Regions from separate parts of the Homo sapiens genome. Here region 2 is linked to region 1. Evidence: fine-mapped expression QTL. Tissue or cell type: whole blood. Region 1 holds a variant in brackets; the other region holds the start of a gene. All regions are shown on one strand. Distances are from middle to middle.

The links. PIP is the estimated chance that this variant, and not a neighbour inherited with it, causes the effect.
Region 2: SFMBT2 starts here. The variant in region 1 is fine-mapped to the expression of SFMBT2 in whole blood (INTERVAL, PIP above 0.99). The same link has a PIP of 0.9 or more in blood mononuclear cells and monocytes.

The regions. Positions count from the first base shown.
Region 1 is chr10:7,179,226-7,181,976 of GRCh38, reverse strand. The region is part of intron 16 of SFMBT2 (Scm like with four mbt domains 2); the gene reads left to right. Among named protein-coding and RNA genes, the nearest start is that of SNORD129, 6.2 kb to the left of the region's middle. The variant A/G (reference allele first, on the strand shown) is at 1,482.
Region 2 is chr10:7,409,897-7,412,396 of GRCh38, reverse strand. It overlaps SFMBT2 (Scm like with four mbt domains 2), which reads left to right and starts at 1,363. Exons shown (of 21, transcript NM_001387889.1): 1 at 1,363-1,536. RefSeq lists enhancers at 1-193, 194-1,114 and a silencer at 1,350-1,489.

The DNA.
Region 1 (2,751 bases):
CCTGGGAAGATCATGTAAGGATCAAGTGATCAAATGCTGTAAGATCCTTGAGAATATGTCAGTAGCTTCATTACATAAATGCAGATTTACTGTTAATTCCCAGCCAGTTGGTAAACTCTTAGAGCTGTCTTTTGCCTCTCCTTTTTTTTTAATAGGGCTGTATCTTCGTATGTTCAGCATGCCTTTGAAAGAGTTGTTCCAACAGTTACCCTAATTTGTAGGCCAACTCCAAAACAAGCCTGTTTATTGGTTCAGGTTGGAGTTGGATTTCACAATCAATTTATCCTTAATGTATTGATAGCATCTGGATGTGTCCATGTGTACTCAACCAATAGTGCTCAGAAATGCTCATGTGATGGAAAGTCTGCTGTAGAGTCAGCTTGGTATAGTTTGAGTCATTATATGACTACATGCCTTTATATTATTTCTAAGTGCTTTTGAAACAATCTCATACTTACAGAAATATTGGAGGTACAGAATAAAGATACTATTCATTCTCCTGATTGATTTGGGATAAGTTGAAGGCCTGATGCCCCGTCACCCCCAAATACATGTTGAATATCCTTTATTCCAATTGCTTGGGACCAGAAGTGTTTTGGATTTCATCTTTTTTCAGCTTTTGGAATACTTGCAGTATACTTATATTATGTTGACACTCAAAAATTTCAGAATTTGGAGTATTTTGAATTTCAGATTTTCTGATTAGGGATGTACCTGTACTTTTTTTTTTTTTTTTTTGAAATGGAGTCTCACTTTGTCACCCAGGCTGGAATGCAGTGGCACAATCTCGGCTAACTGCAACCCCCGCCTCCTGGGTTCCAGCGATTCTCCTGCCTCAGCCTCCTGAGTAGCTGAGACTACAGGCGTGCACCACCATGCCCAGCTGTTTTTTGTATTTTTAGGAGAGATGGGGTTTCACCATGTTGGCCAGGATGGTCCCAATCTCTTGACCTCGTGATCTGCCTGTAAGCAGGCTTTTCTAACGGGAGTGGCTCAGGCCTGCTGTGTTCACCCTTTTCTGTGCGCTTGTGGTGGAACGTAGGCTCCAATTCCAGTCCAGCATGCCAGGGTTCATCCTAGCCTTTTCCTTCCCTATACTTGCAACTCCGGCTGTGACAGTGGAAGCCTGGCCTGTGCTCTCCACCTTTGGAGTATGTATTTATTTCGTCAGGCCCCAGCGTCTCTCCAGTATCCTCACCCTCCCAACAGCTGTCCCCACATGCGACGGCCTCCCCCCTGCGTCCCTCCCGCACTTCCATCCTTTTCCCTGGTGGGTTCCTCCCAGATGGGTTTCATCAAGGAGGGCCCTTGGGACCAATGCCTTTGGAAGGGAGGGGAAGGCAGTGGGATTGAGAAGACAGAGATCATCCCACAGTGAGGCCAGGCAGGCACCCGCAGCAGCTCTGGGGTTAAAGGCTCTTCATGGCTGTCCGGAGTTGGGCCCCAGTGACCTTTTTACCTCCTCCACAGTCAGTCCCTGG[A/G]TGGGGCCCTTCTGGGAAGGGCAGGGCCAAGGCAGCTTTTTGCAAAACCCTAAAGGGGGCTGGGCACAGTGACTCACGCCTGTAATCCCAGCACTTTGGGAGGCCAAGGCGGGCAGATCACTTGAGGTCAGGAGTTCAAGACCAGCCTGGCCAACATAGCAAAACCCCATCTCTACTAAAAATACAAAAAAAAAAAAAAATTACCACTATAGGCGTGGTGGTGGGCACCTGTATTCCCAGTGACTCAGGAGGCTGAGGCATGAGAATCGCTAGAACCCAGGATGCAGAGGTTGCAGTGAGCTGAGCTCTTGCACCATTGCACTCTGGCCTGGATGACTAAGTGAGACCCTGTCTCAAAAAAAGCAAAAAAAAGCAAACCTAAATAAAAGGGCCACAACTGAAGGCTTTCTCCCAGCAGGTGGGGCAACAAGCCCCCCAGTGAAGGGGTCCAGGCAGCACGCCATCCGCCAGCTTCCCCAGCCCGTGCCCTATCCTTACTCAGTCCCCTCTACCCCTCACTGCCATGGCTTCTAAACAGAATTGTTCAGGAAGGGCAGGGAAGAGAAAAGGAGCCCGCTGTTTTTAAATGATGCTATAACTTAAATCTTCATACCTTTAGATGGGCTTTTCCCTATTGTGAAAGTTTTTACTGAAACACTTGTTTCCGTGAAATCATCCCAAACTAGGAAGAGAAAATTAAGCCAGCCTGGTTCTGTTTCCCCCAGATAACCGCTCCCTTCATCCGTCGCTCCGATGTGGCAGCGCGTGTGTGTGCTTCGTCACCTGGAGGTTTGATGAGCAGTCTCATCTTTGAGCCTTGTTCTGCAGTTTGTCCTCTGACCTGGCTTGCACATTTCTCCTGCGTTCTTATGTCTCATTATTTTATTTTTCTAGGGACTCTAAGAATCTCGATAGTGAGCTCTTTCCAACAAAGTTGTGGGGCCACCAAACTCGTAGTGGATAAAACTGCAAGGGAAAATGTAGCCGTGAAGCACTTTTATTCTACATTTCCCATTTTTACTCTCCATTTCCCACAACACGAGGAACATACGGTGTTCCCAGTTGTGCTGTTTCTTTTGTTTTTTTTTTTTTTTTTTTTTTTTTCGAAAATGCAACAAAAGCAATAAGCAAGAACCGCCCCAACGTGGGTCCTGGAGTCCCTCTTCAAAGGCACGGAGAGGGAAGTCTCTACACATAGGGTCAATGGAGGGCCTAGAAAAACCAACAGCCATTCAAGGCTGTAGGATTTAAAGCATGATCTTATCTACAG
Region 2 (2,500 bases), 230 kb before region 1:
TAGATCAGCTCCGGCCCCACCGTCCAGGAGAGGGCCCGCCTGAGGACCTCTGTCTGTGCCGCGCGTGGTCAGCCCCGGTCCCCTCACTCCATGGCTGGCCCCTAGCCCTTCAGAGCGGACACCTCTCCTTAGGGATGCAGGGCGAGGAAGGGCGGGTGGAGCTGCGAACCCACGGGGACCTGGAGGACCTCTTGGCCCCCTGGAGAGGGGTACTATGAGAGGGATTCATGGGACACAGATTTGGGGGACTGGGTAATTTTACCCCCTTTGGCAACCATAAAAACCCTGAGCAAACGTGTCCATTCGCTATTTCGCAGAAATATACAATGCAGGCCCACACAGGCATCTCTGCGAGGCCCCCTAGTTAAGGGCGCAGCGTTCTTCGGAAGCTCTTGGTCTTGCTACCAGGGCGTCACCGGCTTTTCCGCACTGGGGACATTTCGTTTGGGCTCTGCGCAGCCGTTGCACCTAAGGCCCTGGGAGCTCCGCGTTCCTCCCCAGGCGCCCGGGACAAAGTGCCCGAGGGCTCCGCAGACGTCCAGCCCTGCCCGGGGCTCACGGCCGCCGGGGCTCTCCAACGGACCGTCGAGGGCCACGTTTTGCTGGGGTGTGAGCGACGATTCTTTTCCCGCCCTATGAGGCCCGCCACTAGCTAGGTGCCCCATGAGACGCCGTGGCGAGCACGGCTACCTGGCAGCTCGCCCGGGCAGCCCCAACTTAATTTCCTGCCCCTCGGGGCACCTTTCCCTCGAATAGCTCTCCTCGGCCCCTCCAGCCCTGCCCAAGGGGCCTGGAAATGTTCGCAGCTTCAAGAAAGGCTCTATTTAAGCACAGGATGGGGTGGGGCGGGCGGGGCCAAGATTGCCCTGGGGATTGAATTTATCTCCGCTCCCAGCGATCCCCGGCGGATAAAGCGCAAGTTTGTGCACACGGTCGACTGAGCCATTGGAAACCCAGCTCACGAACCGCAGCCAGGGAAACGGGAGTTTGCCCAGTTGTCCTTGCGGAGGGGTGTGCGGAAACGCCCGCGATGGGAACTTTCTGCAGATCATGTATGGAGGGAGCTCACAAAAAGGAGGAAGGGGAGCGCGGTGGGGAGGAGGCCGCGTGGGCGTGGAAGGTCCCAGGGTCCTGGGGGTGCCCGCCTGCTTAGGCGCAGGGAATGGCGCGGAGCTGGCTGGGGAAGGAGCCGATCACGTCCCGCAGGCTAATTGGCTTAAGAAATTTTGCAAGCGCTGGAAAAGGTCGTTGAAGGAGTTCGCTGCACGCGCACGCACACACATACACACACACACAAAATCTTAAAAAAAAAAAAAAAAAAAAAAAAAAAAGAGCGCCGAGCATGCGCACAGAGAGGATGCCATATTGGAATGAGCTGTAGTGGGAGCCGGAGGACCGGAGCGGGCGCGCGAGGGAGGCGGCGGGCGGGGAGCGAGCGGGCAAGGGCGGGCGAGCGAGCAAGCGAGCGAGGCCGGTGCCCTCCCGGGCGGCGACCGGGGCCTGGGTCCACGCCGAGGGCAGGACGAACTTCACCAGGTAGGACGCCGCGCCGGCTGCTGTCCCCGGCGCCCAGGCTGGCCGGAGAGCAGCCCTTCGGCCCGCAGGTTGAGTGCGCTGGTCAGGGGCTTTTTCCAGCCTAGGAAAAAAAAGGAAAAAAAAAAAAAGGAAGGAAGCCTGAGGGAGCTGGGGTTGGAGGTGGCGGGTGGGGGAAGGCTGGGGAGGGTGCAGGGGAGCGAAAGAGAAGGGCAGGAGAAGAAAGCGACTGCACTTGAGCGAAGCTTCAAACTCCTCTGTGCGCTCCAGGTTGTCATTTTTGCTTCCCGGGTCCCCTTCGCCTGCGTCTCCGGGCTCGGAAAAGCCGAGCCGTGCGGGAGTCCGTCCGGAGTTGCAAAGTGTCCTCCTTCCCCGGGCGCAGCCTGTCCCCTCCCGCCGCCCACCTTCCTCGTTTCTGCACTCATTTTAGCGACGCAGCCGCCGCTGCTACCTACCCCGCGCTCCCGCGTCTCCTCCGCGCTGGGGTCTCCCCTTTCTTTTGGTTTGGGTGGGAGAAAAAGATGGTGAGGACGGGGAATCGGAGACCGGCATGGGGGTAAAAATCGTGCAGACATTCGGAATCGCTCCCTTGGAAACATTTGCCTGAGCAACTGAAATAAAATTGGCAGTAGTAGTTTTGGAGCGTGCTCCAGCGAGGATGGTCTTTTTGTTCATTATTTTCTCTTTAAAGTAATATCCTGTCACTTAGGGGCTTTCCGGTTGTCTCCTCTTATTCGACCCCCTTTCAAAATTGCTGACTTGAGCTGGTTCTGGAGTTTATTTTTTAATATGCGTGCGTGGGTATGTGTATGTGTGTGTATGTTTTGCAGAAATCCGCCAAAATGCAACTGTAGGAACTGCGAGATGTATTTATTGATTTTGACCAGGGGCGGTGGGAAGGGGCTGGAGGGAGCTGGGGGATCCTGGAGGGTGGGAAGTGGCTGATTCTCGGTGGCCGGACACTCAT